Linked DNA regions of Homo sapiens. Changing the gene in region 1 together with any one later gene gives a genetic interaction. Each region holds a gene or a part of one and is shown in the gene's direction. Other genes may lie near its edges.

The links. A genetic interaction does not mean that the proteins touch.
Region 2: changes in ILK (region 1) and ACACA together harm fitness more than expected from each alone (negative genetic interaction), as found in Homo sapiens cells (one large-scale study listed by BioGRID).
Region 3: changes in ILK (region 1) and ARID1A together harm fitness more than expected from each alone (negative genetic interaction), as found in Homo sapiens cells (one large-scale study listed by BioGRID).

What each region holds. Positions count from the first base shown.
Region 1 is NC_000011.10:6,609,072-6,611,370, forward strand, and holds the end of ILK (scaffold protein ILK), read left to right. Parts: coding exon 1-85; exon of another isoform or gene 86-227; coding exon 228-337; exon of another isoform or gene 338-440; coding exon 441-568; exon of another isoform or gene 569-652; coding exon 653-774; exon of another isoform or gene 775-864; coding exon 865-964; exon of another isoform or gene 965-1,076; coding exon 1,077-1,207; exon of another isoform or gene 1,208-1,390; coding exon 1,391-1,540; 3' UTR 1,541-1,799; downstream 1,800-2,299. Other genes in the region: TAF10 (transcription initiation factor TFIID subunit 10), read right to left, coding at 1,851-1,940, 2,118-2,232. UniProt on the Homo sapiens protein: Scaffold protein which mediates protein-protein interactions during a range of cellular events including focal adhesion assembly, cell adhesion and cell migration.
Region 2 is NC_000017.11:37,246,337-37,249,836, reverse strand, and holds part of ACACA (acetyl-CoA carboxylase 1), read left to right. Parts: intron 1-1,162; coding exon 1,163-1,244; intron 1,245-1,680; coding exon 1,681-1,826; intron 1,827-2,860; coding exon 2,861-3,011; intron 3,012-3,500. UniProt on the Homo sapiens protein: Cytosolic enzyme that catalyzes the carboxylation of acetyl-CoA to malonyl-CoA, the first and rate-limiting step of de novo fatty acid biosynthesis.
Region 3 is NC_000001.11:26,772,515-26,776,014, forward strand, and holds part of ARID1A (AT-rich interactive domain-containing protein 1A), read left to right. Parts: coding exon 1-118; intron 119-297; coding exon 298-473; intron 474-831; coding exon 832-982; intron 983-1,065; coding exon 1,066-1,203; intron 1,204-1,287; coding exon 1,288-1,384; intron 1,385-1,814; coding exon 1,815-2,706; intron 2,707-3,062; coding exon 3,063-3,193; intron 3,194-3,500. UniProt on the Homo sapiens protein: Involved in transcriptional activation and repression of select genes by chromatin remodeling (alteration of DNA-nucleosome topology).

The sequences.
Region 1 (2,299 bases):
AAATGGAACCCTGAACAAACACTCTGGCATTGACTTCAAACAGCTTAACTTCCTGACGAAGCTCAACGAGAATCACTCTGGAGAGGTGACCCCTGCCCTTCTTGCCCTTCCCTCACTAAACCCCCATAAATTACTTGCTTTGTACCTGTTTTAAGTTTTTCCTCCAGTTAGTGGGCAAGGAAGTGGCAGCAACATTTCAAGCCTCCTAACCCCTACCTGTCCTGCAGCTATGGAAGGGCCGCTGGCAGGGCAATGACATTGTCGTGAAGGTGCTGAAGGTTCGAGACTGGAGTACAAGGAAGAGCAGGGACTTCAATGAAGAGTGTCCCCGGCTCAGGTAGTGCAAGGCGTAACCTGGAAGCTGCTAGTTCCAAGGAACCCTGAATAGCACTGAAAGAGATCTTTTGTACTGGGTCTCAACCACTCCCTCCCTCTTCTAGGATTTTCTCGCATCCAAATGTGCTCCCAGTGCTAGGTGCCTGCCAGTCTCCACCTGCTCCTCATCCTACTCTCATCACACACTGGATGCCGTATGGATCCCTCTACAATGTACTACATGAAGGCACCAGTGAGTAGGGATGTTGAATTTCCTTGGGGAGGAAATGGCAGAGAGGGAGCCTCTCTGAACTATTTGACTTTTGCCTCCTCTCAGATTTCGTCGTGGACCAGAGCCAGGCTGTGAAGTTTGCTTTGGACATGGCAAGGGGCATGGCCTTCCTACACACACTAGAGCCCCTCATCCCACGACATGCACTCAATAGCCGTAGTGTAATGGTGAGGCCACAAGCTCACTCCTGGCCCAGGCCCCAAAAGCCCTTTGCCTATCTATGACTTACCTCCTTCTATCTGTTTTCTCTTCCTCAGATTGATGAGGACATGACTGCCCGAATTAGCATGGCTGATGTCAAGTTCTCTTTCCAATGTCCTGGTCGCATGTATGCACCTGCCTGGGTAGCCCCCGAAGGTGAGTGAAGTCATCATGTCGGGAGGTAAAAAAGGACCACCTCAGAAGTAGTGGAAGGGGGCAGAGACAGGACAGGCAAGGGGGCCAGAACAGACAAGCCCTATCTCTCCAGCTCTGCAGAAGAAGCCTGAAGACACAAACAGACGCTCAGCAGACATGTGGAGTTTTGCAGTGCTTCTGTGGGAACTGGTGACACGGGAGGTACCCTTTGCTGACCTCTCCAATATGGAGATTGGAATGAAGGTGAGAGCACAACAGCATACATTTGTGTTGCGGGAGTGGTTGGTGATGGTGAAAATAACTGTAGTGGGCCTTGGCTCCTCACATATTTGTTCGGATATACAGTAATCCTGTCCCAAGGGCCAGTGGCTTCTCTCTACATGACAGACTCAAATTGTGAGGCTGCTTTTTTTCTTGTATTCGCAGGTGGCATTGGAAGGCCTTCGGCCTACCATCCCACCAGGTATTTCCCCTCATGTGTGTAAGCTCATGAAGATCTGCATGAATGAAGACCCTGCAAAGCGACCCAAATTTGACATGATTGTGCCTATCCTTGAGAAGATGCAGGACAAGTAGGACTGGAAGGTCCTTGCCTGAACTCCAGAGGTGTCGGGACATGGTTGGGGGAATGCACCTCCCCAAAGCAGCAGGCCTCTGGTTGCCTCCCCCGCCTCCAGTCATGGTACTACCCCAGCCATGGGGTCCATCCCCTTCCCCCATCCCTACCACTGTGGCCCCAAGAGGGGCGGGCTCAGAGCTTTGTCACTTGCCACATGGTGTCTCCCAACATGGGAGGGATCAGCCCCGCCTGTCACAATAAAGTTTATTATGAAAACAGGCTGGTGTGGGGACATGGGGACAGATAAGTACATTTAGGTTGGGTGGCTCAGGTGAAGTAGTGCGGCTTCTTCACATTGATGCCATACTCGCTGAGGGCAGGGGTCAAGTCCTCCATGGTTAGAGTGTACTTGCGGTCCTGAGGGAAGAGGGAAGAGCACCAACTGAGCACAGGAATCCCGGACTTCAATCCCAGATGGGTGACCCTGAGTAAGTCTTACACCTCCCCTACGATTCAGTTTCCCCAAAGGGGTGGCAGGATAAGCCTCCACTGTTGTGGAAGGTAATTACTGATTCATTAAGCCTCCCCTCACACCTTGCTCTTGCTCCGGGAGCTGCCGGAGGCCGTGCCCTTCATTTTGCAGTGCTGTAGGGCATCATTGGCAATATCTGAGATGAATTTCTGGGCAGCTAAGGAGATGAGCCGAATTCTAGAGAGAAAAAACTTAGATGAGAAGGAGATGGACAACATACTGCACAAGCACCCAAAACTAACCT
Region 2 (3,500 bases), on another chromosome or scaffold:
AGCTACAGTTCAAGATGAGATTTGAGTGGGAACACAGCCGAACCATATCAACATGCAATATTTGTTTCTTCCCACCTCCTGGTTTTTTAAAACTCAAATGGTAGCATGCTGTGAAGCTGTTATTTACCTTGCTTTTTTAACTCAACAGTATATTTTTTAAAGTGTTTTTTAGTTCACATCTTTTTAATGTCTGTATGTTTTGTTCCACATGTGAAAACATGCGCAACATCACTAATCATTAAGTAAATAAAATCAAAACCATGATGAGATACCACCTCACACCCATTAGGATGCCCACTGTCAAAAAACAGAAAATAGCAAGTATTGGCAAGTACGTAGAGAAATTGGGACACTTGTGCACTCTTGATGGGAATGTAAAATGATGCAGCCACTATTGAAAAATGGTATTGCAATTACTGAAAAAATTAAAAATAGAATTACCCTATGATCTGGTAATACCACTTCTGGGTATTCTGAAAGAATTGAAAGCAGGGTCTGAAAGATACTTGCACAGCCACATTCATAGGAGGATTATTCACAGTAGCTAAAAGATGGGAGCAACTCAGATGTTGGTTGATGGATGACTGGATAAACAAAATGTGGCATATACATACAATACAGTATTATTCAGCCTTAAAGAAGAAGGAAATTCTGACACATGCTAAAACATAGGTGGATCTTAAGGACATTAGGGCAAGTGAATTAAGCCTGTCACAAAAAGACAAATACTATATGGTTTTACTTATATGAAGTATGAAGAGTAGTCAGACTCATAGAACTAGAAAGTAGAATGACGGTTACCAGGAACTGGGGGGAGGGCGAAATTGGGAGTTGTTAATGGGTGTAGAGTTTCACTTTTGCCAGTTGAAAAAGTCCTGCAGATTGGTTGCAGAATAGTGTTAATATCCCCAACACTATAGAACTGTGCATTTTGTAATGGTTAAGATGGCAAATTTAATGTAATGTGTATTTTACCCTAATTTAAAAAAATCCATTGTAAGATTCATAATTGATGTGATCAATTCCTTACAAACGATCATTTAGGTATTTAGGTTGTTTCTAGTCTTTTGTTATTCTAGGAAATGCTACAATCAATAATGTTTTAGATTCTCTTATAACTGTTAGAACTTTGTAGTAAGTTCCTCTCTCATCGTTCTTTCAGGGGTCAAGTCCTTCCTGCTCATACACTTCTGAATACAGTAGATGTTGAACTTATCTATGAGGGAGTCAAGTATGTACTTAAGGTATGCAGAACCCCATTGGAGCTTGCACCTTACTTTTTTAGCTATCTTTCTTTAGGTTGAGAGGCAGGAGAAAAAGTTTGATTTAATGCAGGGATGGGGGTATTAGTGAAATTACCGTCATTATTTTTGTCAGTGTCCTGAAGCAGCGTTTGTTGTTCTATGAAAATCTTTTTTGTTGTTCTTCAACTTCACATACACTGCCAAGAGATAAAGGAGAGACAGAGAACAACCACAGTTGGGGAAAATCAACTAAGGTTGCCCTCTTTGCTTACAGCAGGACTGAGCCATGTCCACAGACACTGATGCAAATAGCATCAGTGCCATGAATTTTCTTCCTCCTGACAGATCTTTCTTATCTGTATTTTTGAAGCATTCAAATTTCATTTGGAGCTGTACCTGGAAGGGACACACTGATCCTCATTCTCATTCCCTACAGGTGACTCGACAGTCCCCCAACTCCTATGTGGTGATCATGAATGGCTCATGTGTAGAAGTAGATGTACATCGGCTGAGTGACGGTGGACTGCTCTTGTCCTATGATGGCAGCAGTTATACTACGTATATGAAAGAGGAAGTGGATAGGTAAGTGGCTGTTTGAGGTCCATTTGCTGGTCATCCTGTTAGCCTTTTCTCTTATTAGCTACTAGCTCTTGGGATTTTCCCAGGCTTTTCTTGGTACTCATTTGTAGTTAAAAAAAAAAAAAATAGTACATGCACTTAACAAAAATATCAAGAGTATTAAAGTGTTTATAATTAAAAACATGTCTCCCTACCACTCCAGTGTATGTGGACAATGAAAAATAAGTTCCCCTTTTTATAAGTAACCATTGTTAAAAGTTTCTTACATATTTGAGTAGAAATTTTATATGCATATACAAGTTACACTCATGTACATACTGTTTTTCTTTAAATACATTCACAAATGTGGCTGGGCGCGGTGGCTCACGCCTGTAATCCCAGCACTTTGGGAGGCCGAGGCAGGTGGATCACCTGAGGCTGGGAGTTCAAGACCGGTGTGGCCAATGTGGTGAAACCCTGTCTCTACTAAAAATACAAAATTAACCAGATGTGGTGGCTTATGCCTGTAGTCCCAGCTACTTGGGAGGCAGAGGCAGGAGAATCACGTGAACCTGGGAGGTGGAGGTTGCGGTGAGCCGAGATCACGCCATTGCACTCCAGTCTGGGCAACAAGAGCAAAACTCCGTATCAAAAAAAAAAGAAATTCACAAATGTTCAACACCAGTTATGGTGTTATGAGAATGAAATAAATTAACATGTTGAAAATGTGTAGAACATTGCCACAACATAGCTAGGCTTCAAGAAATGTTAGCTATTACGTCATCAATATCTTTGTGTGTGTTTTTTTAAATGGTGGTACCTGTTATTTTTAATAGTCATGTGGTATTCCATTATATGATTATACTATATTTAATCTGATCCTTATTGAAGGAAATTTATGTTAATTGACATTGTAAACAAATATGCAGTGAATATGTCTGTGTGTGTGTATAATAAAGTTTTCAGGATTTTTTTTCTTTGAAGGTTGACATTCTCTACCATTCTCCTTTACATCCTGAGGTGCTTTCTTAGCTTACATACTTCCACTTGTCTCCTAGATATCGCATCACAATTGGCAATAAAACCTGTGTGTTTGAGAAGGAAAATGACCCATCGGTGATGCGCTCACCTTCTGCTGGGAAGTTAATCCAGTACATTGTAGAAGATGGAGGTCATGTGTTTGCCGGCCAGTGCTATGCTGAGATTGAGGTCAGGGTGGTGAAAGGACTGTGGGATCATGGGAGGGGAAGGTAGGAAAAGGGTCGGCTGGGATGGACTAGGACTGAAAAGTTACAGAAAGGAGGCTGGGCACAGTGGCTTGTGCCTGTAATCCTACCACTTTGGGAGGCTGAGGCAGGAAGATCGCTTGAGCCCAGGAGTTCGAGACTAGCCTGGGCAAGATGGTGAGACCCCATCTCTATGAAAAATTAAAAAATTAGCGGCGTACAGTGGCACATGCCTGTAGACCCAGCCACTCTGGTGTCTAAGGCGGGAGGATCCCTTGAGCCCAGGAATTCAAGGCAGCAGTGAATGGAGATTGTACCACTGTACTGGAGTGGTACAATTTGTGGCCTGCGTCACAAATCAAGACCCTATTTCTAAAAAATTAAAAAAAAAGGTAACAGATTGGAAATAAGAATGAAAAAGAAACATCAGTTGGCTTAATTAGAAGTGCGAACCTTAAGATTTTTAAAACAC
Region 3 (3,500 bases), on another chromosome or scaffold:
TGCAGGGGCCCCAGACTCCCCAGTCAACCAGCAGTTCCATGGCAGAAGGAGGAGACTTAAAGCCACCAACTCCAGCATCCACACCACACAGTCAGATCCCCCCATTGCCAGGCATGAGGTAAGGCCAAGAGCAGGGGCAGATGGTTGGGAGGATGGCTGAAGATAAGTGCATGGGAACTCCTTGCAGCCCAAGGTGGTCCTTGCCTCTGCCTTCCCAGCCAGTGACTCCTGCGTGTCCTTTGTTATATTGGAGGAATTGGTTTATTTGTGGTTTACTTGGTTTTCCTCACTCTGGAGCAGGAGCAATTCAGTTGGGATCCAGGATGCCTTTAATGATGGAAGTGACTCCACATTCCAGAAGCGGAATTCCATGACTCCAAACCCTGGGTATCAGCCCAGTATGAATACCTCTGACATGATGGGGCGCATGTCCTATGAGCCAAATAAGGATCCTTATGGCAGCATGAGGAAAGGTGACTGATCTGATTGCTATTTGAACTTGTGCTCGTAAAGACAGGGCCAGTGAAATGGGGGGAAATCTTGAGAATGGCTCAGGGTTCTTGTGGAGCCATCCTCTGAGATAATGCATTTCCTGCCCTAACTACCCCTCTTCATCCTTACCTCCTTTCTTGTCTTCTCCTTGGCTTCACCTTGTCATCCCTTAATAAGTACATGCTTTTCGCTGGTTGGGGCCTCTTTAGATCTCTGTTTTGAACTTGTCTGGAAAACAATGAGATCAAACCTGAACTCTGAAGAGGGCCTGGGTCAAAGGGTAGATTACCAGGCTTGTCAACTTACCAGTTTGTTCACCGCTTGCCTTTCTACGCTCAGCTCCAGGGAGTGATCCCTTCATGTCCTCAGGGCAGGGCCCCAACGGCGGGATGGGTGACCCCTACAGTCGTGCTGCCGGCCCTGGGCTAGGAAATGTGGCGATGGGACCACGACAGCACTATCCCTATGGAGGTCCTTATGACAGAGTGAGGTAAGCATGACCCCAGCTCCTGTCCACTCCCCCAGCACCCTGAAGCTATAGTGGGCTCAATCTGCCTCTCCAATTTTGTTTAGGACGGAGCCTGGAATAGGGCCTGAGGGAAACATGAGCACTGGGGCCCCACAGCCGAATCTCATGCCTTCCAACCCAGACTCGGGGATGTATTCTCCTAGCCGCTACCCCCCGCAGCAGCAGCAGCAGCAGCAGCAACGGTGAGTAAAGCCTGGTCTCGGTGCTGCTATGGATCAGGCTTCGCCACTGCCCACCCTAATCCTGTGTTTCTTTGCCTCCTATAGACATGATTCCTATGGCAATCAGTTCTCCACCCAAGGCACCCCTTCTGGCAGCCCCTTCCCCAGCCAGCAGACTACAATGTATCAACAGCAACAGCAGGTGAGGAGGGTAGCTGGGAATGGACTGGCATGCAGGTTCGCCTTGAAAACTAGTTAGTAAACTAATCTAACGTGTTGAAGTCTAAGAAGCTCACTTTAGATATTTTGGCATTCTTCTCTCACCTGACTGGCCAGTCCTGCCTGAAGAGCCACGTCCTCAATCTCTTCTCTATTTGGAGTTGGAAGGGGCTAGAAATAGACCTTATTTTGATTTTTAGGTTTTGTATATTTTTCTACTTAAGCAAGGGAAGGGAAGAAAGAGTGGTGGTTGCTTTTGGAAACAACTTCAAAAGACAATTTGTTAAGGTGATTCCCATGTTTTCTTGGAGTCTGTGTCCACCAAGCATCTGGTTGTAGCCATCTTGGCATCTGTGGGCTTTATGTCCCTGAGTGCAGAGTATTAACTTCCCCTCTGCTTGTCTCTGCCTTAGAATTACAAGCGGCCAATGGATGGCACATATGGCCCTCCTGCCAAGCGGCACGAAGGGGAGATGTACAGCGTGCCATACAGCACTGGGCAGGGGCAGCCTCAGCAGCAGCAGTTGCCCCCAGCCCAGCCCCAGCCTGCCAGCCAGCAACAAGCTGCCCAGCCTTCCCCTCAGCAAGATGTATACAACCAGTATGGCAATGCCTATCCTGCCACTGCCACAGCTGCTACTGAGCGCCGACCAGCAGGCGGCCCCCAGAACCAATTTCCATTCCAGTTTGGCCGAGACCGTGTCTCTGCACCCCCTGGCACCAATGCCCAGCAAAACATGCCACCACAAATGATGGGCGGCCCCATACAGGCATCAGCTGAGGTTGCTCAGCAAGGCACCATGTGGCAGGGGCGTAATGACATGACCTATAATTATGCCAACAGGCAGAGCACGGGCTCTGCCCCCCAGGGCCCCGCCTATCATGGCGTGAACCGAACAGATGAAATGCTGCACACAGATCAGAGGGCCAACCACGAAGGCTCGTGGCCTTCCCATGGCACACGCCAGCCCCCATATGGTCCCTCTGCCCCTGTGCCCCCCATGACAAGGCCCCCTCCATCTAACTACCAGCCCCCACCAAGCATGCAGAATCACATTCCTCAGGTATCCAGCCCTGCTCCCCTGCCCCGGCCAATGGAGAACCGCACCTCTCCTAGCAAGTCTCCATTCCTGCACTCTGGGATGAAAATGCAGAAGGCAGGTCCCCCAGTACCTGCCTCGCACATAGCACCTGCCCCTGTGCAGCCCCCCATGATTCGGCGGGATATCACCTTCCCACCTGGCTCTGTTGAAGCCACACAGCCTGTGTTGAAGCAGAGGAGGCGGCTCACAATGAAAGACATTGGTAAGGAGATCTTCCTCATTCGGTTGCCTAATCTGCCCCTTTCCATCTTGTCCATTGTTCCCTCCACCTTACTATTCTGGATGAGGTTGAATCTGGTCCAGTGTTGACTAAAATAGAACCAAAGAACTTTGGAAAAGGAAGAAATAAGCTAACTAAAGGTTCTCCTTCATTGCCATGCAATGAAGTCCTAGACAGACAGCTTAGAAGCCATGAGGGGCTGGTGTGTTTCATCTCCCAGACAGAAACTGCCTTCCACCTTGTGTTATCTTCAGAGTAGCTTCACTGATGGGGCAGCCCTAGGGGTGCCTCCAGCCAACCTGGGCTTGGTGGATAGACGACATGGAGGTTTATTTCAGGAACCCCGGAGGCATGGCGGGTAATGATGTCCCTCAAGTCTGGTCTCCTGGCAGAGAGCACATGGGCATTAGATACCATCAACATCCTGCTGTATGATGACAACAGCATCATGACCTTCAACCTCAGTCAGGTGAGTATCAGTGCCTGGGGAAGATTGAGAGGGTTTGGGATCTTCTTAGTGTAGACAATGGGAATGTCTCATCTTTAGCCACCTTGGTCTTTCTCTTTCTCTCTTGTAGATATCTTCCATGCCAGTACTTTGCTTCCTTTGCCTCTGGGCACGGGCCCAGGATTTTGACAGCAATAATAATTTGTTTACATGATAACCTTAACACAGGATTGACTTCAAAAGGAATTTGGGAGACACTTTGTGGTATTAGTAAGAATTCAGATTCAATCGATGCCAGTGGGGACACCACATTTTCTAGAAGAATCTG